Linked DNA regions of Homo sapiens. The protein of the gene in region 4 purifies or fractionates together with the protein of the main gene of each other region. This does not show direct contact. Each region holds a gene or a part of one and is shown on either strand. Other genes may lie near its edges.

Evidence for each region.
Region 1: the proteins of LTF (region 4) and OASL purify together in Homo sapiens (pull-down; one large-scale study listed by IntAct). This does not show direct contact.
Region 2: the proteins of LTF (region 4) and CCP110 purify together in Homo sapiens (co-immunoprecipitation; one large-scale study listed by IntAct). This does not show direct contact.
Region 3: the proteins of LTF (region 4) and ATF2 purify together in Homo sapiens (co-immunoprecipitation; one large-scale study listed by IntAct). This does not show direct contact.
Region 5: the proteins of LTF (region 4) and MYB purify together in Homo sapiens (co-immunoprecipitation; one large-scale study listed by IntAct). This does not show direct contact.
Region 6: the proteins of LTF (region 4) and PPARA purify together in Homo sapiens (co-immunoprecipitation; one large-scale study listed by IntAct). This does not show direct contact.
Region 7: the proteins of LTF (region 4) and PRTN3 purify together in Homo sapiens (affinity purification with mass spectrometry, with the first as the bait; one large-scale study listed by BioGRID). This does not show direct contact.

What each region holds. Positions count from the first base shown.
Region 1 is NC_000012.12:121,022,247-121,025,746, reverse strand, and holds part of OASL (2'-5'-oligoadenylate synthase-like protein), read left to right. Parts: intron 1-1,609; coding exon 1,610-1,757; intron 1,758-3,500.
Region 2 is NC_000016.10:19,544,442-19,547,941, forward strand, and holds part of CCP110 (centriolar coiled-coil protein of 110 kDa), read left to right. Parts: intron 1-355; coding exon 356-457; intron 458-652; coding exon 653-769; intron 770-1,375; coding exon 1,376-1,449; intron 1,450-1,970; coding exon 1,971-2,033; intron 2,034-3,500.
Region 3 is NC_000002.12:175,161,704-175,165,203, reverse strand, and holds part of ATF2 (cyclic AMP-dependent transcription factor ATF-2), read left to right. Parts: intron 1-3,500. UniProt on the Homo sapiens protein: Transcriptional activator which regulates the transcription of various genes, including those involved in anti-apoptosis, cell growth, and DNA damage response.
Region 4 is NC_000003.12:46,447,906-46,451,405, reverse strand, and holds part of LTF (lactotransferrin isoform 1 preproprotein), read left to right. Parts: intron 1-732; coding exon 733-911; intron 912-1,377; coding exon 1,378-1,552; intron 1,553-2,388; coding exon 2,389-2,543; intron 2,544-3,500. UniProt on the Homo sapiens protein: Transferrins are iron binding transport proteins which can bind two Fe(3+) ions in association with the binding of an anion, usually bicarbonate. Lactoferricin binds to the bacterial surface and is crucial for the bactericidal functions.
Region 5 is NC_000006.12:135,198,308-135,201,807, forward strand, and holds part of MYB (transcriptional activator Myb), read left to right. Parts: intron 1-600; coding exon 601-743; intron 744-1,218; exon of another isoform or gene 1,219-1,274; intron 1,275-1,777; coding exon 1,778-1,892; intron 1,893-1,982; coding exon 1,983-2,108; exon of another isoform or gene 2,109-2,250; intron 2,251-3,331; coding exon 3,332-3,442; intron 3,443-3,500. UniProt on the Homo sapiens protein: Transcriptional activator; DNA-binding protein that specifically recognize the sequence 5'-YAAC[GT]G-3'. Plays an important role in the control of proliferation and differentiation of hematopoietic progenitor cells.
Region 6 is NC_000022.11:46,157,026-46,160,525, forward strand, and holds part of PPARA (peroxisome proliferator-activated receptor alpha), read left to right. Parts: intron 1-3,500. UniProt on the Homo sapiens protein: Ligand-activated transcription factor. Key regulator of lipid metabolism. Activated by the endogenous ligand 1-palmitoyl-2-oleoyl-sn-glycerol-3-phosphocholine (16:0/18:1-GPC). Activated by oleylethanolamide, a naturally occurring lipid that regulates satiety.
Region 7 is NC_000019.10:846,337-848,675, forward strand, and holds the end of PRTN3 (myeloblastin precursor), read left to right. Parts: coding exon 1-41; intron 42-1,413; coding exon of another isoform or gene 1,414-1,434; exon of another isoform or gene 1,435-1,462; coding exon 1,463-1,633; 3' UTR 1,634-1,839; downstream 1,840-2,339. UniProt on the Homo sapiens protein: Serine protease that degrades elastin, fibronectin, laminin, vitronectin, and collagen types I, III, and IV (in vitro).

The DNA.
Region 1 (3,500 bases), on a different chromosome or scaffold from region 4:
TCTGTCACCTAGGCTGGAGTTCAGTGGCACGATCTTGGCTCACTGCAACCACCACCTCCTGGGTTCAAGCTATCCTCCCACCTCAGCCACCCAAGTAACTGGGACTACAGGCGCCTGCCGCCATGCCCTAATTTTTGTATTTTTAGTAGAGACACGGTTTCACCATGTTGGCCAGCCTGGTCTTGAACTCCTGACCTCAAGTGATCTGCCCACCTCGGCCCCACAAAATGCTGGGATTATAGGCGTGAGCCACTGCGCCCCACTCAAAGAGCTGGTGTTAATCATGGACTTGCAGTCACCCCAAGTTAATAAGCAAGCCCAAGATCCCCTTCAAGCCAATATTCTTTAAAATATTTATTCAATATTTATAGAAAGGAGAGACTTTTGGGGGCAGCCCAACCTCTGCTCTGTTGAGGAGGTAGATGGGTAAGAGCCCCCATCTACTGGCTGTAAGAACTTAGGGCAATCTAGGCCGGGCACCGGTGGCTCATGCCTGTAATCCCAGCACTTTGGGAGGCCAAGGCAGGTGGATCACGAGGTCAGGAGTTCAAGACCAGCCTGGCCAAGATGGTGAAACCCCATCTCTACTAAAAATACAAAAATTAGCTGGGCGTGGTGGCGGGTACCTGTAATCCCAGCTACTCAGGAGGCCGAGGCAGAGAATTGGCTGAACCCGGGAGGTGGAAGTTGCAGTGAGCCGAGATTGCACCACTGCCCTTCAGCCTGGGCGACAGAGCGAGACTCTGTCTCAAAAAAAAAAAAAAAAAAAAAAAAAGGAACTTAGGGAGGTCTGTAAAAAGGGGACAACCACAACAATAAACAATAAAAATAACAGTCCCTACCTTATAGAATTGCTGTAAGATTAAAATAGGTTAATCTGCATAGGATTTGGCCTTGTGCTTCAATAAATGTCAGTAGTTGGTGGCAGTGGTGTTTCTACTATCCAAAGTAATTCAGCAGCTCTAACCTTAAACTTAAACTTGCAAAACCTGCTCCGAAGGTACAGGGCCCCCCCTGCCTGAAAGGGCATCTGTTATTACTCCAGCATGCCTCTTGGGGCCTCATTCTCCCCCTAAATTCCTTGCAAACACTTAAGGCACTATCCCAAAGAAGAAGAATTTTTTTTTTTTTGAGACAGTCTCACTCGGTCACCCAGGCTGGAGGGTGGTGGCATGATCTTGGCTCACTGCAACCTCCACCTCCTGGGTTCAAGCAATGCTCCTGCCTCAGCCTTCTGAGTAACTGGGATGACAGGTGCGTACCACCACACCTGGCTAATTTTTTGTATTTTTAGTAGAGACAGGGTTTCACCACGTTGGCCAGGCTGGTCTTGAACTCCTGACCTCAAGTGATCCTCCCGCCTCAGCCTCCCAAAGTGCTGGGATTACAGGCGTGAGCCACTGTGCCTGGCCCAGATAGGAATTCTTGGAAATAGCATTGTCTCCATCCTGTTACTCTCCTGCGGTGTTTTGGGGCCCTCTTGAACATCCCCGGGATGTGGATATCACAATTCTCAGTGGCTGGACGAAATAATTGCCGAGAAGGTTTTTTTCTGGCTTGAAGGCCTTCAAACCATTATGAGCCTGGGCACCCTTTTCCTGTGTTACAGGCCCATCATCCTGGATCCGGCCGACCCCACCCTCAACGTGGCAGAAGGGTACAGATGGGACATCGTTGCTCAGAGGGCCTCCCAGTGCCTGAAACAGGACTGTTGCTATGACAACAGGGAGAACCCCATCTCCAGCTGGAACGTGAAGGTAATGGCTCCTCTCTGGGCTGTCAAGGGCTTGAAGGTCAGAACGACAGATAAACTACTCAGTATTTACTCATTCAGTTCTGTGTTGATGGAGAACAGAACTTTAGAGTCACCGTTTAAGGGCCAGCTGCACCACCCATGGGCTCCGTGAACTTGGACAAATTCTTTGGCTCTCAGAGCCTTGGGTTTCTTACCTTCAAATTCTTGTTCTCCTTTCCTTTCTTTTTCCCATAATTTACTGGAGAATCAGTTCTGTGTTCCTGATCATTCTTTGCGTGAGTTGGGTCCAGCCAAGTCAGCTCAATCAGCCATTCTGTGCCAGTGCTGTTCTCAGGGATGGGGTAGGGGATGTGGGCTGGGGGACAACACAGGCACAGAAATAAGACATGACCACGACGCTCGGCCAGGTGCGGTGGTTCACGCCTGTAATCCCAGCACTTTGGGAGGCCAAGACAGGTGGATCACTTGAGGTCAGGAGTTCAAGACCAGCCCGGCCAACATGGAAAAAACCCATCTCTACTAAAAAAATACAAAATTAGGCGGGCGTGGTGGCAGGTGCCTATAATCCCTGCTACTCCGGAGGCAGAGGCAGGTGAATCGCTTGAACCCGGGAGCTGGGGGCTGCAGTGAGCTGAGATCGTGCCATTGCACTCCAGCCTGGACAGCAAGAGGGAAACTCTGCCTCAAAAAAAAAAGAAAAAAAGAAAAAAAAAAGACACCACCCTCACTCTCAGAGAACTCACCCTATGTTGTCAGGAAGCAAATCCATGAAACAAACTTACACAAAACTGCTAGAATTACCAGAGAAGACAAGATACTCTGAAAACAAACAAACAAACAAAAAATACTAAGTCATATTATTATATGATGCCAAACCTATAGTATAGGCAGAGATCACAAAAATCTATTTTATTAACATCACACTTTCTAGTGTGCAAAGCTCTTGTCCAAGGTCTGTCTCAGTTGATCCTCATAAGCAATTCTGTAAAGTAAGAAGGTCGAGTGTTATCACTATCTTTATTATTATTATCATCATTACTATTATTGCCATTTTACAGAAGAGAAAACTGAGGCTCAGAGAGGTTAATTAACTAAGGGCACTCTGCTAAGAGGCAGCAGAACCAGGGGCTCTGGGGGTCTGGAAGCAGAATAAATGTTAACTGAAGTCACCAGAGAAGATTCCTTTAAAAAGTTAGGAGTTGAAATGAGCCCTAAAGGCCGGGGGGAGATATAGACACTCAGAACAGAGGACAAAGGATGATGAGGGGTAAAGGATGGGAGGCTGGGATGAGCAAGATGTGTACAGGACAGGAGACTGAACTGCTTGGAGCAGAAGGCAGAAGCAGAATCAGAGGCTCCAGTAAGGTACATAGAGTATAAACGGGGGGACCCGCTGGCCAAATGAGGAGGCCCACCCATGGGCTGGAAAATATACGCCTCTGGATTTTTCCTGAATATAAAAGCCATTGTAGGCTGGGGGCAGTGGCGCACGCCTGTAATCACAGCACTTTGAGGGGCTGAGGCGGGTGGATCCCTTGAGCCCAACAGTTCAAGACCAGCCTAGGCAACATGGTGAAACCCCGTCTCTACTAAAAATACAAAACTTGGCCAGGTGCGGTGGCTCACATCTGTAATCCCAGCACTTTGGGAGGCCGAGGTGGGCAGATCACGAGGTCAAGAGATCGAAACCATCCTGGCCAACATGGTAAAACCTCATCTCTACTAAAAATACAAAAATTAGCTG
Region 2 (3,500 bases), on a different chromosome or scaffold from region 4:
ACAAATGATGGTTGTGTCTGTACTGAACATGTACAAATTTTTTTTCCTTGTCATTATTTCCTAAACAATATAACAACTATTTACATAGCATGTACATTTATTAGGTATTTTAACTAATCTAGAGATGATTTAAAGTATATGGGAGATGTGCTTAGGTTATATGCAGATAACTATTTTATATAAGGGACTCCAGCATCCTTGGATTTTGGTATCTGAGGGATTCATGGAACCAGTCCCCCACAGATACTGACGAAAGACTGTAATTTTGGATTGACTGAGAAAAAGAAAAAAGCAAACTCCAGTGATCACAAATCTTTCTAGAAAAATGTTTTTGAAGGAGCATTTCTTTTTTCAGGATACTATGGAATTCATAAGAAGTTTTCAGTCAGAAGCACCATTAAAGAGAGGCATTGTTTCAGCTCAAGATGCTTCACTTCAGGAAAGAGTGTTAGCTCAGGTAAATACATGGATCCTGAAGGCTTTTAAGACATGGACATATTATATTTCTCCTTTTTTATTTAATCACTGAAAATAGGTTTCAATGAAAACTATTTTAATCTTTTTCTATAAATAAGTGTACATGGTATATAGTATTCCTGAACTCTAACCTCATCTTTTAAATGTATACAATATTTTCTTCTCTTGTGCCTAGTTGCGAGCTGCCTTGTACGGTATTCATGACATATTCTTTGTAATGGATGCAGCTGAAAGAATGTCTATTCTACATCATGATCGAGAAGTTCGCAAAGAGAAAATGCTCAGGCAAATGGTATGTTATATGATTTCTAATGAATAGAGTTCTTCTGGGTTTAGGGTAATTGATACTAAATGTCAGTTTTGGTTGACTTCAGCACCCTTCTTCTGATAATTCTTAAGCACAAGTAATTCCTGGAATTACTAGCAGCATTTAAATCTGTAGACAGATTTAAAAGAATTACATCATTTAAGAATTACATATTGTTTTCTTATTGGATTTTAGAGTTGAAGCTTTGAATGTTTTGCTCAGATGGCTTATACAATCTATCAGCTGCTCCTGATTGAATTTCCTTGAATTCAATTATAATGTGGGTTTTGCTTTTTTTGAAATCTGAGTTAGAAAACAGGCTCCAAGTTAATTTGAAGTATATCAGAGTATGTGATTTGAATCAGTTATCTTAGTGTGATTGGCAAAGGAAAAGCAAGCAAAATTTACATAATTCTAATTATTTAATTCTTAGAATTAGACTGCTTCAAAAATACAAAACAAGATGATTTAACTAAATTAAAAATGTTAGTAGAGAGAAGCTTTTCCAGGCAATGTGGGATTATAATACATTATAATATAGTGGTATTAATTGGTTCCAGTAGAGTTTGACGTTACTTTTGTATATTAAAGGATAAAATGAAAAGTCCACGAGTGGCTCTTTCAGCTGCAACACAGAAGTCTCTTGATAGGAAGAAATACATGAAGTAAGTTTTTTGTATCATGTCATGTTAGTTATCAAACCAATTAATTTTAGTCATCTGTTGGTCTATTTGCATATTTAAATTTAGAAATAAAGAGTTAATTTTTCTGCAGTTGAGCTGATAGAAATCCCCTTTATATAAAGAAATTTATTAAAATCAGGTGCTAAAATCTCATTTCATCTTAGATGAATTTATTTACTAAATTTGACAACATTCAACTCATATAACTGATAGCTGGTTAATCTTAAAAACAGTTAATCTTTATATTCAGTGCCTAAATATATTCCTTTTCTGATGTCCTAAAGGTTTCTTGGGAATAAAGACTTAATGGGAAAAATATCTTAATAACTTTTTTAAAAAATTCTTCTTTCTTGAATGCAGTCTTTAATATGCTTAGTACAGGTCTTCCAGTAGTACACCAGCTTCTAAATGATGATTTGTTTCTGTCATCCTGTATTACATTTGTAAGCATGTTTTCTTCCCTTCTCTAAATACATTATGTCCTTATTTTTATATTGTGTTAGAGCTGCTGAAATGGGAATGCCAAATAAGAAATTTCTGGTTAAACAAAATCCTTCTGAAACAAGGTGAGAAAAATCACTTAGTCTTAATGAGAGGCTTTTTGTTTTTTATAGAAAAAAAAAATTGGCTGGGCACGGTGGCTCACGCCTGTAATCCCAGAACTTTGGGAGGCCAAGACGGATGGATCACCTGAGGTCGGGAGTTTGAGACCAGCCTGACCAACATGGAAAACCCCATCTCTACTAAAAATACAAAATTAGCTGGGTGTGGTGGCACATGCCTGTAATCCCAGCTACTCAAGAGGCTGAGGCAGGAGAATCGCTTGAACCCGGGAGGCAGAGGTTGCAGTGAGCCAAGATTGCTCCATTGCACTCCAGCCTGGGCAACAAGAGTGAAACTCTATCTCAAAAAAAAAAAAAAAAAAAGTTAAAAAATTAAAATTTAAATCCCAAACTTCATTTTTGTTGACTTTGTTCTACTTGACATCAGTAGAGCACTTCTTGCTGAATTGGGTCGGGGGTCGTCCTCAGGCTCAAGATTCATACCAATACCTGGCCATATACCTAGTCACATGTCAGACCAGATGTGCCCGGACCTTTTGTAGGACATGCTATCTGTGGTAGAAATTTTGAGCGTGGTATGTCTTGAGTTCAGTTAGACAGTCCAGAGGATCTTTGATACTTATTTAAAAACCTTAGAAAGCTAATTTAAGCTGGGCTGGGAGCAGTGGCTCATGCTTGTTATCCTAGCAGTCTGGGAGGGTGAGGTGGGTGGATCACGAGGTCAGGAGTTCAAGACCAGCCTGGCCAAGATGGTGAAATCCTGTCTCTATTAAAAATACAAAAATAAAAGATACAAAAAGCCGGGTATGATGGCGCGTGCCTGCTCAGCTACTCAGGAGGCTGAGGCAGGAGAATTGTTTGAACCTGGGAGGCGGAGGTTGCAGTGAGCCGAGACTGCACCACTGTACTCCATCCTGGGCGACAGAGCAAGGGTCCGTCTCAAAAAAAAGCTAACTTAAGCTGGGCACAGTGGCATGCTCCTATGGTCCCAGGTACTCGGGAGGCTGAGGCAGGAGGATAGCTTAAGCCCAGAAATTCAAACCAGTATGGGTAACATAGTAAGACCCATCTCAAAAAAATAAATAAATAAAAAATAAAGCTAAAAAGCGAACTTTAATATTTCTGACCTGTTTTTTACTCCTGTAAAATGAGAGTGATACTTTCTTCTCTCACTGGTTTGAAGGGAAAAGTTAGCTTTTGTAAAGCATATGTATAAGAAAATTATCTAAAAGCACAAGGGTTAGTCTATATGTTGGACATTTCTTTGCTGATAAAAACCTAAGGTTTGGACTCTTAGTGAGCAAAATACAAGTATCATATTAATATGCTTTAGTCGATTTGCTCTGATTTGTGGTAATATATAGGCCATATTATTGCATAGTTGACCTTTACCTTACAGTCATCATCTTTCATCCGTTGAAAGAAAATGGGAAAAAATGGAATTTAACCTATTAAATTAATTTTTCATTT
Region 3 (3,500 bases), on a different chromosome or scaffold from region 4:
ATTTTTATAAAAGTCAATGCATATAGCACCTGTTGGGTTATTTTGTATAATTAAAATGTACCCTAAAAAAAATCCCACCTTAGCCAGGTGTGGTAGCTCACGCCTGTAATCCCAGCACTTTGGGAGGCTGAGGCAGGCGGATCAGCTGAGGTCAGGAGTTCAAGACCAGCCTGGCCAACATGGTGAAACCACGTTGGTAGGCGCCTGCAATCCCAGCTACTGGGGAGGCTGAGGCAGGAGAATCGCTAGCACCTAGGAGCAGGAGGCTGCAGTGAGAGCCGATCGTGCCACTGCACTCTAGCCTGGGCAACAGAATGAGACTGCATCTCAAAACAAAACAAAAACCAAAAAATTCACTTAGTATTGTTATAATCTGGAGTTTAATTTAGTATTTCTGTGTTTATCTCATACTCACACCTGTTCCTCAAGGCTAAGAACTTGTCTAAAATGCTGCATGTTCTCTTTATGTAAGTTTTAATGTTGAAGTAGTAGGATAGTATTCACCTATTTCTATTTGAAGGAAAACCCCAGAGAACATTTTATTTCCTTTGTTATGTTTCTCAAGGTTAAAAGGTTATATAGTAAGGTATAAGATAGTTTCATAGAAAATCAAGGAAATTTGTGGATCTTTAAGGCCATCAGTAATTGTATTTTATCTTATTTTATTTTTGAGACAGAGTCTCCCTCTGGCTTCCACGCTGGAGTGCAGTGGTGCAGTCTTGGCTCACTGCAATCTCCACCTCCCGGATTCAAGCGGTTCTCCTGTCTGAGCCTCCCGAATAACTAGGATTACAGGGGTGCACCACCATTCCCTGCTGATTTTTGTATTTTTAGTAGAGATGGGGTTTCACCATGTTGGCCAGGCTGATCTCGACTTCCTGGCCTCGAGTGATCCACTCGCCTTGGCCTCTCAAAGTGTTGGGATTACAGGCGTGAGCCACTACACTAGGCCTATTTTTACACATTATTTTATAATATAAATATATTTAATGTTACATATTATATAAATATAAATAAATATGTATTCATTATATGTGTCTTTTCAATTTGTTGAGACTTTTTGACAACCTTGAAACTGGTGTATTCATTTTCACTTTTAAGGCATTACAGGCATGAGCCACTGCACCCGGGCCTATTTTTACACATTGTGTTACAGGTGTATTTAATGTTACATATTATATAATTATAAATAAATATGTATTCATTATATATATCTTTTCAATTTATTCTTGTTGGCAACCTTGAAACTAGTGTATTCATTTTCACTTTTCTTTTTTTTTTTTTTGAGACGGAGTTGCTATGTCACCCAGGCTGGAGTGCAGTGCCGCTCTCAGCTCATTGTAACCTCTGCCTCCCAGGTTCAAGTGATTCTCCTGCCTCAGCCTCCTGAGTAGCTGGGATTACAGGTGCCCGCCACCACACCTGGCTAATTTTTGTATTTTTAATAGAAACGGGGTTTCACCATGTTGGCCAGGCTGGTCTCGAACCTGCCTCGGCCTCCCAAAGTGTTGGAATTACAGGCATGAGCCACCACCCAGCATCATTTTTCATTTTTTAAGTATGTTTATTGATTTTTTTTCCTTGGCATTTTGACATTGACAGTAAAGAAGAGATGTAAACAATGTTTTGGGGGCTTTGCCTATTCACCCATATTTGCATTCTGTATCTTAACAAAGATAGTGGTTCTCAGCCACTTTTTTGCCTTTCTACCCAAGGAATACAAAATACTTCCAACAGTAGTAGTGGCTTATTACCACAGAGATTCTCAACAAGACTGGTAGGGAAAGACAGGGAGAAATAATTGTAATTGGCAAAATACCATATGGACTTTGGTTATTTTTGTAATATATAGTATTTTTATCTATAATATTGACCATAAGTTTATAAATATATTCCCTAAATATTCTTTAGTTTGCTAGCAGAACCGAAACCTTTGTCATTCTAATTTTTTTAGCTTTGCTCCAATGTTATAGCTTTGGTTTTTCTAATTTTACTGTTCGGGCTAGTATGTTTGCTTGCATTTATTTATTTATTTATTTATTTATTTATTTATTTATTTATTTATTTTTTGAGACAGAGTCTCGCTCTGTTGCCCAGGCTGGAGTGCAGTGGCACGATCTTGGCTCACTGCAAGCTCCGCCTCCCAGGTTCATGCCATTCTCCTGCCTCAGCCTCCCAAGTAGCTGGGACTACAGGCACCCACCACCACGCCCGGCAAATTTTTTAATATTTTTAGTAGAGACGGGGTTTCACCGTGTTAGCTAGGATGGTCTCGATCTTCTGACCTTGTGATCCGCCCACCTCGGCCTCCCAAAGTGCTGGGATTACAGGCATGAGCCACTGCACCCAGCCTGCTTTTATTTATTAAACGTGTCGGAACAATTTTTTTATATATCAACTTGTTTTGCCATACTAACAAATAATTGTGTTCATTATTTTTGTTTTCTTCTAGTTTGTGCATATATATTGCAGTTTTTACAGAATTATATCAAATAAGTTTTATTTTACTTTTATAGCATTGTATTTTTCCATGTTGTATAACCTTTATGATATTTGATTGTTACTTGATAGTTGAAAAATAAGTATTAAATTTGTTCTAAATGCCTGACAGGAAAATAATAGTTTTCAGTTTATGCCTATTTTGACATTGAATTGAACATCTCTGTGCATTTTTTCTTTTATGAATTGTTTCTATAGGATACTAATCTCAAATGAATTACTAGTCAAAGGATATAAATGTTTCTACAGTTGCCAGATTTTTGCCTCCCCAAAGACTTGAGCGAGTTTACACTGTCAGCAGAGCATGAATGCGTTAGCTTTGCCATACTTTTGTGAACTTGGGAGTTATGATTAATGAAGCGTGATTACCTAATTGGGAATTATTTCTGGGAATAAGTTGTATTATTTAGCAGTTTTAAAATTATTTAGTTGGCCATATCATACTATAGTTATTTATCTACCAGTGATCTATGTGATGTGACAAATATTGTGTATTTCATATTTTCTGACATTTTACTGTCTTTGTTTCTTTTAAAGTTTACCAAAACTTTTGACAGACTGGTAACAATAATTCTTAGATTTCATGCAGTTTTATGTGGTTTGTACACTGAGTATTTTAATGCTAGTTTAAGAGTTAATTTCTGGGCTGGGCATGGTGGCTCATGCCTGTAATCCCACCATTTTGGGAGGCCTAGGCAGGTGGATCACCTGAGGTCAGGAGTTCGAGACCAGCCTGGCCAATGTGAGAAAACACCATCTCTACTAAAAATACAAAAATTAGCTGGGCATGATGGCGGGTGCCTGTAATCTCAGCTACTCGGGAGACTGAGGCAGGAGAATTGCTCGAACCTGGGAGGCAGAGGTTGCAGTGAGCCAAGATCACGCCAGTGCACTCTATCCTGGGCAACAGAGCGAGACGGTGTCTCAAAAAAAAAAAAAAAGAGTTACTTTCTGAACTATACATTTCATAGTTCTGTCTTATGAATGTGTCATTATGATTT
Region 4 (3,500 bases):
TAAACCTTCATTCCAATCTATTAGCTTTTTAAATACTCTGTGAGATTGAGTTAGTTAGTACGTTATTTACAAATTTTGCATTTATGTTCGTAAGTAAAATAAACTTTTAATTCTTCCCTCCTATACTTTTTCTGATTTTGACATCAAGGTTGTACTAATCTCATAAAATGACTCGGGCAAGATTTTTTTCACTTTACACATTCTGAAGCAACTTATATATGATATTCCACATTTGCCTGAACTCATTCATAAAACCATTCTTCCCCTTCTTTTGATATACTCAGTGTTGGAAAGTGTCTCACCTTCCTGCCTTATTCCCTGCCTTGTTAACATTTTTGTCATTTTTATTCTTCCCAGAGATGTGAGTAAGGGAGCAACCCTTGGTGGCCCCCTGAGCTTGTCTCTGCAAAGTGACTTTTCCAGGCAGAGATGCCGCAGAAACAGACGGGTCTGGTTTGGCCTCTCTGGCCTGCCAGGCAGCAGCTGCACGGGAACCCCAGGGTGGCCTAAGTGATTTAGGATGAGGATCACACCTCGGCTGCCCCCTGAGGCTTTTGGGGCACTACCTTTACCTTTCTGAGTGTTCTGGAGCAAACCCCTGCCTTTCTGACCCTCAGTTTTGTCAGCTATCTCCCCAAGCTCAAAATTCTATAGGGAGAAGGGGAACTATAGCTCGAGGTTACTGCTGGAGTCGGCTTATCTAGACTCCCTCCCACCTCACCTTCCCTGCAGAGGACCTGTCAGACGAGGCTGAAAGGGACGAGTATGAGTTACTCTGCCCAGACAACACTCGGAAGCCAGTGGACAAGTTCAAAGACTGCCATCTGGCCCGGGTCCCTTCTCATGCCGTTGTGGCACGAAGTGTGAATGGCAAGGAGGATGCCATCTGGAATCTTCTCCGCCAGGCACAGGTATCTTCACCCACGGTCCTCCCCACTTGCTTGGATATGGGGGGCAGGGAGCAAGGTTTCTTACTTCCCTGACTTCTGCCACTCCAGAAGTCCTGTAGCTTTGCTGCAGGATAGCACACTAATGCATTGGGCTGCTTGCCCAGGCTGTACTGTGGACAGCAGAAGCAATGAAACTCTTCTGTCACACGGGCTGACAGCGTCTTATGATGGGAGCAGAAGCAGGGGGTGGTCGATGCAATCTTCTCAGGGCCCTAAGGTGCTTGGACCTCAGCAACTCTTCAAAGAATGAGCCATAGCTGAGCTTGGGTCTCCGAGATGGCACAAGTCCCTCTGCAGGAGGGTCTCAACCGAGGCTCCTGCTCTCAGTTAGAATGATCCCAAAGCTCCAGATACTCTTTTTTAACATCATTTTTTTGTTTCCTCCCTATTTACCATTGACACCATAATTCTATTTTTTCTTAATTAGGAAAAGTTTGGAAAGGACAAGTCACCGAAATTCCAGCTCTTTGGCTCCCCTAGTGGGCAGAAAGATCTGCTGTTCAAGGACTCTGCCATTGGGTTTTCGAGGGTGCCCCCGAGGATAGATTCTGGGCTGTACCTTGGCTCCGGCTACTTCACTGCCATCCAGAACTTGAGGAAAAGTGAGTGAGCCCAGGAGGGTCCTGAGGTCCGCCTGGTGTGGTCTTCTACTTCCCAGCAGGTGGCCCTACTTTGTGGCGGTCACTCCTTTTCCCAGACACTGTGGGGTCATCGTGGAGGTTTGATGCAGGTGTGAGTGTCTTCTGTGGATTAGGTCAGGTGTCTCTAAAAGAATAGTCTGGCCACCTGATCAGTGCACGTCAGGCTCCCCAGGCCTGGCAGAAAAATCAGTTTGCCTCCTATTAAGTGAGAAACATGAACATGAACAAAGATAGCCAGGACCCCTCCTGGATGAATCCGGGGGCCTGGATTTACCCACACTTCCCAGGCCCAGACCTTGAACTTAGTTGGGGACACCATGGTGGGGGAACTCAGCTATGGCTCCTTCTCTACTGGGGGGCTGGGGGTGGGAGTCTGGGGGAACCCAGAGGCTGCACCGTAGTTATTGGTGGTGATTGCAGGCGTTAGGGGAAGTCAGGGTTGGGCTCAAGGTCCCCTAGGCCATCTCTTGGGACTGTCACTGGTCTCTGGGTCATGGAGCGTTTATCCTCAGAGACAGAGACAATAGGCGCCTCCTGACTCTAAAGATTAATGGATAGATTAGAAGCCAGGGAACTTCTCCAAAGGAACAGAAGTGGGAAACACAGGGAGCTCTGTGGACCTGAAGAAGGGGCTTGGAGCTGAGAAGTGGAGGAGGAGAGGGTATGGGTCCACATGTCCACACATGTACTGTAGCTCCTGTTCCAGGGAGAGTCTGGGCAGGACCCTGGCTCTGGGGAGGTTGGACAACCTGGCAAAGCTCAGGTTGCCCAGCCACCTGCGGTCTTCCCTCTGGCAGGTGAGGAGGAAGTGGCTGCCCGGCGTGCGCGGGTCGTGTGGTGTGCGGTGGGCGAGCAGGAGCTGCGCAAGTGTAACCAGTGGAGTGGCTTGAGCGAAGGCAGCGTGACCTGCTCCTCGGCCTCCACCACAGAGGACTGCATCGCCCTGGTGCTGGTAGGGAGCTCCATCACAGGGGCGGGCGGTGGGCCCGGTGGAAGACCTAGGGCCTGGGCATCTGCTTAAAGTGAAGTCAACAGTCAAAGAGGCCACGGGGGCCTGGGTGAGGCAGGGATGCCTGGAGAGGTGTGCTCAGGGCCAGAAAGCATTTTAGTTTCAAAAAGCAGTTTACTGTGGGTTTCCCACTCCTCTGGTTATAAGAACAACTCAGGATTATTATAAGGAATTTGGAAAATATGGAAAGGTATTATGTTAAAACAAAACAACAACAAACCCCCCAAACCACCTGTGATCTCACACAGAGGGACAGACATGGTTAAAGTCTGGCTAATTCTCCATTCCAGTATTTCTCTGCACATCTGCAGATATGCATGCAACAATAATGAAGTGTTGCAGTATGTCGTTTTTAAGCCCTTTTCACTAAACAGCGTATAATGGGCATTCTTCCACATGAATATTTACTCTTGGAAAGCATTAATTTTTTTTTTTTTAAGAGACAGATTCTTGATCTGTCACCCAGGCTGGAGTGCAGTGGTGCGACCACATCTCACTGCAGCCTGGAACTCTTGGGCTCAAGTGATCCTCCCATCTCAGCTTCCCAAGTAGCTGGGGCTACAGGCATACGCCACCACACCTGCATAATTATTATTATTATTATTGTAGCGACAGGGTCTCGCTTTGTTGCCCAGGCTCGTCTCGAACTCCTGGGCTCAAGCAATCTTCCTGCTTCGGCCTCCCAAAGTGCTGGGATTACGGGTGTGAGCCACAGCACTCGGACGAAAACATTTTTTAAACATGCTTCCAGGATATCTTTTATGTGAATATGGCTCAGTTTAGTCATGCCCCCATTCCTCTTTGTCCCTTACTTTGCTATTATCAATAACCCTGTGGTGAGCATTCTTGAGTAGAAATCTTTGTCCACTTCTCTATTTTTAATATAGTTGTAAAAATATT
Region 5 (3,500 bases), on a different chromosome or scaffold from region 4:
TTCTCAGAGTTATTAATATGCCGTTGTGCCTTGTGAATTTCCAGGAGGAGATTATGATATGTTGTGTTTCCCAAATTTATTTTACCTTGGAATTGTTTAAGGAACACCTAGTTTTTTCCCAGAACTTTAGTGTTCTGAGAGACACAGTTTATTATTCAAGAATTTTCCATATAATGTAAACCTTCTGTAATACTAATTTTGGTTCATAGATTATTAAAGAGAAAAAACAAAGTATGAAAGGAAACTATTAATTATTAACTATTATTTTCCCCAAAATCACTAAAGCCTTTTAAATGTTAATAAAGAACACATCTCATTCTCTTTAATGACAAGTGTCATTTATTGAGAGTATTTTCTCACAGTTTTGCAAGTTTTTCAGCAATGACCCTAAATTTTATTTCTTGGAAACCACACCCAAATCCTGGGTGCTCAATTGAAATAAAACAATACCCTAGTCAATATAACATGCTTGTTAGCATCTTTATTATTTAATATAGTGGGTCAGGAAAACATTCTTGTTATCTAGGTGTGATTTTTAAATTGGGGAGAATAAAGAATTACCATCTAATCTAAGTATTTTTTCTTTCTCTCCATATTTAGTTCTTAAACACTTCCAGTAACCATGAAAACTCAGACTTGGAAATGCCTTCTTTAACTTCCACCCCCCTCATTGGTCACAAATTGACTGTTACAACACCATTTCATAGAGACCAGACTGTGAAAACTCAAAAGGAAAATACTGTGTAAGTCTTTGGTTCAGGAATAAAATGATTTATCTTATTTACTTATATTTAATTAATGGAATATAGTTCCCAGATGTCTGATCCACTTGTATGTGCATAATTTTACTGACCATTTATATATAATCATGTCTATTCCCACATTGAATATATCTGTCCTGGGCATATTACAACTACCTACAGGTAGAAGATGGGAAGATAAACTAGATTCCTTTTGTAACTTACTCCAAAATTTCCTATATATGCACAAGTAGTTTTCATAAAACTTTTCCATTCGGTTTGTTTGTTCCCTCCATAAGGCCTTCTTATGAAAGCCAGATTTTCAACCTCCTTTCCTCTCTAATTGTAAGCTTCAGAATAAGAACGAGTATGGTTTCTTACCTAGTTTGTATTTTTATTTAATTTTATTTGTTTATTATTTATTTATTTTTAGTTTGTATTTTTTAATCTTATTTTTTCTTTTTGAATTTATGTGTAGATAGGACCTCTTCTGACATCCCCAGGAATATTATATGATTAGAAGCCAAGGGATGAGTAAGCAGTCATTTTTATTCAATAAAGCCTTAATCAATTCAGAGAAATGGTAGAGAAAGTGTGAATTATCAGAAACCTTGAAAAGAAATGCACTGTTATTTCGAAGTACAAAAAGTAAATTTTAAAAGTTTAACATGTTTTGTAGTATGGGCTCTGTTTTCATGAATAGGGAAACCTGATTTGTAAATGACATCAGGTCTTCTTGATGCTCATAGTCTTATACAGATCATAGGCACTACATGTGTCTTCAGAGCCATTAAGGAAAGATGTTAAATCATTTAATGCTTTTAGTCTTCGAGGTATAATATTTTGAAATATTTGAAAATATGTGATATGCATATTCTCTTTTTCTTAACGAATAACGTGATTAATCAGCACACCCCAATTCCATATCCGGAACAGAGTTTATTGTATTCAGTGGAAAAATGTTAAATGTAACAGGTAAAGCCATGTAGGGACATTTATTCTTTTGTATTGAGCCACTGCTTGTTTTCTTTTTAAAGTTTTAGAACCCCAGCTATCAAAAGGTCAATCTTAGAAAGCTCTCCAAGAACTCCTACACCATTCAAACATGCACTTGCAGCTCAAGAAATTAAATACGGTCCCCTGAAGATGCTAGTAAGTTCTAGAAAAGTTTTTGGATTTCATTGGTTTATTAGTCCCATTAGGAGTTCTCTCTGATGCAAAAATACCCACTCTTCCGTTTAGCCTCAGACACCCTCTCATCTAGTAGAAGATCTGCAGGATGTGATCAAACAGGAATCTGATGAATCTGGAATTGTTGCTGAGTTTCAAGAAAATGGACCACCCTTACTGAAGAAAATCAAACAAGAGGTAAACACGCAACCCTTTGGAAGCAACAAGCTGAGAATCCTGCCCCCTTTATTCCTTGTGTGCAGCTTGATGTGTCTGCCATTGGCACTGTGCAACACCACGACTTTTCGTGCAAGATTTTCATACAAGGTGCAGCGAAAAGGTACTGCCAGACTGTAGGCATCATCAACCTTTCCTTTGGGAAGCCAAGCCATCTCTATCTACTTCATGTTTGGACAGAAAACATACTAGAGAGTATCAAGAAAAGGGAGGGAAAGAGGTTTTTAATGTACTTTTAAACATTACTGATTATATAAAGTTGATATTTCATTTTTAGATGTGAAGAATTGGAATTTAAATTAAAATAATAGTATCTTTAATTAATTGTATTAAAAAAAGGGAGGCTGGGCGCGGTGGCTCATACCTGTAATCCCAGCACTTTGGGAGGCTGAGGTGGGCAGATCACAAGGTCAGGAGTTCGAGATCATCCTGGCTAACATGGTGAAACCCCGTATCCACTAAAAATACAAAAAAATTAGCTGGGTTTGGTGGCGGGCGCCTGTAGTCCCAGCTACTCAGGAGTCTGAAGCAGGATTATGGTGTGAACCCGGGAGGCAGATCTTGCAGTGAGCCAAGATCGTACCACTGCACTCCAGCCTGGGAGACAGCAAGACTCCGTCTCAAAAAAAATAAAAATTAAAATTAAAAAAGAGAATCTAACCTGCAAGGATCAAAGTTTTAGCTTGTTGGCAACAGCTGTTTTCCACCAGGTTAGATACAGTGCTTCTTGAATTTATTTTCATGTAAAGATAAGTATTTTTTTTTATAGCTAAAAATCTGATTTGATTATTTAGTAATGGAGAATTTTACCAGAATGTGATTAAAAACCAGTCTTTTGTCACCAAAAGATCTTTTATGTCACCAAAATAAAATCCTTGACGGATACAACACTACTAGGTGTATCATTAAAATATATTCTTAATAGAATAAACACCTAGAATCAGAACATTGGTTGAAAACGTAGGAGCTTTACAGGGGCAGTAAATTTGGAGCTAGTCACATTTCAAATTTGCCATCAGTGTTTCTTTGTTGAATCCAGAAGATAGAGCAAATTGAGCTGATAGTGTAAGTTAGCAACATAGTTTTATAAAAGTATTTGAGGGACTGGCCAGAAATATACTCCTGACTGTACATGTTTCATAGGAAGTTCTAGAAACAACAAAGCACTTTCTATATGCTTTTAGGTGGAATCTCCAACTGATAAATCAGGAAACTTCTTCTGCTCACACCACTGGGAAGGGGACAGTCTGAATACCCAACTGTTCACGCAGACCTCGCCTGTGGCAGATGCACCGGTAAGTACGTGTGCACCAGCCCCCAAGTTGTTATGTGACACTGGTGCCTCATGAAATC
Region 6 (3,500 bases), on a different chromosome or scaffold from region 4:
AAATGCAGGCCCAGTGAATCTCCCCATGCCTGGACACAGTTCCGTCAAGCCAGGACCCGGTGCTGCCTGCACCCCTGTTTCTGTTAGTCTGACTGTCCTCGCTGAGTCTAACTCCTTGAGGGCAGAGAGGATGTCTTATTTATTTCTGCCCCGCTAGCCGTGTAAACTGAGTAGGTACTTGTAAATGTTCATTGAATAAGTACCTGATTAATAGAATTTAATTCAAGAAGAATGTATTGATGGGCCTGTGTGGTCACCACAGTACTGAGATGTAGGTGGGAGCTGGCTGAAGGGGGAGGCACCTAAACAGGAGTGCAGACAGCGGCACCTACGGATGATGGCCCGCTCCATCCCACCGCAGCGAAATTGTCCCAGACCTCTGCAGCTTCCCCCACACCTAGACTGAGAGAGAGCTCTTCTTCCTTCTGTAGGGAGCAGGTGTTTCCTCCAGATGTCCAATATGTACCTCCCATTACAGCGGTGTTAGGAAGGTGAGGGCTGCCGCTGAAAGGGTCCCCTTCATAATCATCACTAGATTTGGGGTATATTATGGATTAAATAGAATTTTTATAAGATGACCTGAGGATCTATTTAAATAAAATCCTCTTTCTTTCTGCAAGATCATGGATTTAAATTCAACACAACTGACTTCATAGGGAAGGGGTATGGTGAAAGGGAAGTGAGGTGGGCAGCACTGATATTTAACAAGGTGAGGGTCCTTCTCCTGCTCTGACTGTCACATTAAAATATTCCCAGGAGAAATTGGAGAAAACTCAGATGAAATATCGTCTGTGTTCCAGGAGGCAGGACTCATCGGAATGCTTTTATTTTGCTCCATTTTAAGAGATTTGCAGATAAAGAGGAGTGAAGATTTCTATTCAGATTTACTTGCTTTATATTTTAACTTATAGACCACAAGCCAACTTTCGAAAGAGCATCATTTTGAATAGTAAGAGTTAGGAAGGCAAATACAGAAGGACTAATGGCTTCCAAGATTATGAGCTTCATAGGAATGGTTTGAGATGAGGCTATAGTAAAGCAGAATATTGAAGTTCCCCCACCCCCTTTCATTTTTCATTTTTCATTTTTAAGAGTGAGCGAGGCCAGGCGTGGAGGCTCACACCTGTAATCCCAGCACTTTGGGAGGCCGAGGTGGGCAGATCACAAGGTCAGGAGTTTGAGACCAGCCTGGCCATCATGGTGAAACCCTGTCTCTACTAAATGTACAAAAATTAGCCAGGCTTGGTATCAGGTGCCTGTAATCCCAGCTACTCAGGAGGCTGAGGCAGGAAAATTGCTTGAACCCAGGAGTCGGAGGTTGCAGTGAGCTGAGATCGCACCACTGCACATCTCAGAAAAAAAAAGAGTGAGGCCCCAAGTTTTTTTGCATTTGTTTGTAACTGAATACGTCTGAAGTTATGTGATAACCACGCCAAGGTGACAAATTGCCAAGTTTCAGTAAAAGAGACCCAGTTATTTAGAGGTTGACACGTGGATATGTCCCTTTCTAAGAAGTTCGTGGTCAGCTTTACATGAGTATTTAAATGCGTGTTTATAATTCAGCAATATGGCTTGTAAAATACAGATTGCCAATCAAGTGACATGCAAATCTTGATGATCTGAAACAAGTTTTCTTCTGTTATCTATGGAAGAAATGGTAATAGGGATATTTAAGTGGGATGAATTTTTTGAAGCATTTTCAGGCAGTTTTCCACATGGAACAAAATAACATTGAGTGGGCTGCTAACATGAGGAACATATTGCCCTCTGCCTAGGATTATGAGTAAATTTGATAAATTCTAGACTGCAGTCTCATTTTAGCTCATTTTATGAGGCAGCTTGACAACTGGGATAGTGTCTCTTTTTTTTGTCGGGGGTGTTGAGGCTGGAGTCTCGCTCTGCTGCCCAGGCTGGAGTGCACTGGCGTGATCTCGGCTCACTGCAACCTCTGCCTCCGGGGTTCCAGTGGTTCTCCTACCTCAGCCTCCTGAGAAGCTGGGATTGTAGGCATGTGCCACCACGCCCGGCTAATTTTTGTATTTTTTAGTGGAGACGGGCTTTCACCATGTTGGCCAGGCTGGGTCTCAAACTCCTGACCTGAAGTGATCTGCCCGCCTCAGCCACCCTAAGTACTGGGATTACAGGCATGAGCCACCACACCTGGCTTCTGTTCTATCTGTGCATTGGGGATGAAATTAACACAAATGATGTTTAAAGAAAAAAATGCTCAGAGAAGTTAGAAATGTGCTTTAAATTGGAATCATCTCTTAGTATGTAAAAGTTTTTTGTAATAGAAACAAGCAGGGCAGTATTTGACCTGTTGACAGTGTCCTTGGACTTTACAATTTGTGAAGCAGCGTATTTTGCTTGAGTTGTACGATTGTCGTTTTTTTCCCCCCACTTTGACAACTGTTACAGAACCTGTCACCAGATACAGGCAAGGGAGGTTGGGCTTCCCATCTCTGCACGGCTTCCCTGTGATTCACAAGCAAGCAATCAGAAGTGCACAAAAGTTTAGAACGCGATTTTCATTCTCTTCTTTCCTTAGAAAAACTCGCTTTGTTAGCCTTTTCCAGAAAGGAAGGCACTCAATTGTTGTAATACTCAAATCATAAAAAGAAGCCTAGTCTAGTCTATTCAGCAAGGTGTTCTGAAAGAGGGAATTTTTTAAGTTCAATTATGCGAAGATCTTGAAGGTGGGACTCAAAGGAGAGGGCTATCCTGGGAAGAAGGCTTTGGAAAATGAGAGGCATGAAGGGGAGAGGGTATTTAAATGTGTTTGAAGCCAAGGATCCTTGAGAGAAAAAGCTGGCACTAACAGCGTTCAAAGAACTTGCGTGACAAGTGATGACTAATGACACTGAGGGTGGGTTGTGGGTGCCTAGTGAATTCCTCCGAAGCCAAGAGAGAGGTTTCCAGACCCAGGGAAGAAGGTGTGTACACCCAGAAGTAGTGTAGGGACAGAGATTCCGATCACAAGCTGTGACTGGAAGACGCCGACCACCACTGCAGCAGCCTGAAAACCACAGTCTTGAACCGCCAGCGAAGGGCTGGGAAGTGCGGATCCAGGGCTGGTGCACTGAACCCAGAGGAGCAGGCTCCCATTCCCAGCTAAGGGTGGCAGCTGGCGGGGATCTTTCCAGCAGAAAGCTGTAAGTGGAAGCTTTCAATTCAGAGCAGTAGCAATGCCTTCAAAGTCCCAGGCTTCACGTGGGAACAGAGAATGTGAAGAGTATTTAGCAGGATGCCAATATAAGAAATCTATATTGGTGTTCGTTTGTTTGTTTTTGAGATGGAGTCTCGCTCTGTCACCCAGGCCGGAGTGCAGTGGTGCGATCTCAGCTCACTGCAATCTCTGCCTCCTGGGTTCAAGCGATTCTCCTGCCTCAGCCTCCTACATAGCTGGTACTACAGGCACGCGCCACCATGCCTGGCTAAATTGTTGTATTTTTAGTAGAGATGGGGTTTCACCACGTTGGCCAGGCTGGTCTCAAACTCCC
Region 7 (2,339 bases), on a different chromosome or scaffold from region 4:
TTTGCACTTTCGTCCCTCGCCGCAAGGCCGGCATCTGCTTCGTAAGTAACCGTGCCCCCACCCCGGGCACCGGGCTGCCATGAGGGGAGGAGGGCGGCGGCCAGGGTTCCACGCCACCTCTTAGCTGTGTGGCTTCATGCTGTGCCTCAGTCTCCCCACCTGGAAGGTGGGCACACCCAACACCCAACGGGCAGGCTCAGCGGGGTGGGGGCGCTCACATTGCACCTGGCTGCTTGGGTGGGTCTGGGGGTTCCCTGCCCCCCACTCCCCTCTAGGACCACAGGAAGGTGTGGGAGACCCATCCGCCCTCACCGGCGGCCCCTTCCAGAATCCAGGACTCCAGGTATCCAGCGGGAGGCCCATAAATGCCCAGTTCCTACGAAAGACCTCAGCCCCTCCCTGCTCACACTTTTTGTTTGTTTTTGAGACGGAGTGTCGCTCTGTTGTCCAGGCTGGAGTGCAGTGGTGAGATCTCAGCTCACTGCAACCTCCACCTCCCAGGTTCAAGGTATTCTCCTGCCTCAGCCTCCTGAGTAACTAGGTGCACAGGTACCTGCCACCGTGCCTGGCTAATTTTTTTGGTATTTTTAGTAGAGATGAGGTTTCTCCATGTTGACCAGGCTGGTCTTGAACTCCTGGCATCAAGTGATGCCTGGCTGGTGCTCACACATTTTAAAGAAAATTCCAGGCCAGCAGTGGTGGCTCACGCCTGTAATCTCAGCACTTTGGGAGGCCAAAGCGGAAGGATCTTTTGAGTCCAGGAGTTCAAGACCAGCCTGGGCAACATAGCAGGGTGGCATCTCTACAAATAATTTAAATATTAGCTGGGCATGGTGATGTGAGCCTGTAGGCCCAGCTACTCAGGAGGCTAAGGCAGGAGGATCACTTGAGCCTGGGGAGTTCGAGGTTGCAGTGAGCTATGATTGTGCCACTGCACTCCAGCCTGGAGAACAGAGCGAGACCCTGTCTCGAGAGAAAGACAGCCAGCTACTCGGGAGGCCGAGGCAGGAGAATCACTTGAACCCGGGAGGCAGAGGTTGCAGTGAGCCGAGATCACGGCACTGCACTCCAGCCTGGGTGACAGAGCGAGACTCTGTCGCAAACAAAACAAAAACAAAACAAAACAAAACAAAAGGAGAAAGAAAGAAAGAGATAGAGAGAGAAAGAAAGAAGAAAGAAAGAAAAAGAGAGAAAGAAAGAAAGAAAGAAAGAAAAAGAAAGAGAGAGAGAGAGAGAGAGAGAGAGAAAGAAAGAAAGAAAGTTCCATATTGGAAGCATTTTATTCTGAAACAGCTGTGGCTACCCCAGCCCCCTTCCTGGCTGCCTGGGGCCAGCCCGGGTGACTGGCTGTCCCCATCCTCCCGGGAGACTCAGGTGGCCCCTGATGGGTGACTGGCCGTCCCCATCCTCCAGGGAGACTCAGGTGGCCCCTGATGGGTGACTGGCCGTCCCTGTCCTCCAGGGAGACTCAGGTGGCCCCCTGATCTGTGATGGCATCATCCAAGGAATAGACTCCTTCGTGATCTGGGGATGTGCCACCCGCCTTTTCCCTGACTTCTTCACGCGGGTAGCCCTCTACGTGGACTGGATCCGTTCCACGCTGCGCCGTGTGGAGGCCAAGGGCCGCCCCTGAACCGCCCCTCCCACAGCGCTGGCCGGGACCCCGAGCCTGGCTCCAAACCCTCGAGGCGGATCTTTGGACAGAAGCAGCTCTTCCCCGAACACTGTGGCGTCCGGGACGGCCCCACCCGTCCCCCCACACTCCCTCCCACGGGGCTCCGGGAGACAGGCCGGCCCTGCACCTCACCCCACCGTGACCTCAATAAACGTTGAAACTCCCCCTGGCTCCTGTCTGTCCTTCCCATATAGGGAGGGGAGGGGGAACTGCCCACCGTGACCTCAATAAACGTTGAAACTCCCCCTGGCTCCTGTCTGTCCTTCCCATATAGGGAGGGAACCAGGGAGAGGTCCCCTGGGTTCAAGTCCCCGAGCCCCAAACTCAGGATGGGGGGAGTCGGAGCGGGGGATGGGGGCCCAGGTTGCAGGGGGTCTCTCTCCTGGATGCTCGTGGCTGTGGGTTCTAACCCGGCCCCATCAGGGTGGCCCTGGGCAGGTTGTTATTCATCTCCGTGCCTCAGTTTCCTCATCTGGAAAATGGACTCGCCCCAGACGTTTCCTAGAACTGTCCCTGCTGGCTCAGGGACTCCTTGAGGAAGGGGATGGGGATGGGGAAGCAGCCTGGGGGGCTTCCTGGAGGAGGTGGCAGTGCCAGAGCTGCATATCAAGGTGTGAACAGAAACATCCGAAGGGCTGCCAGGCAGGGGGCACAGTCCAGGCAG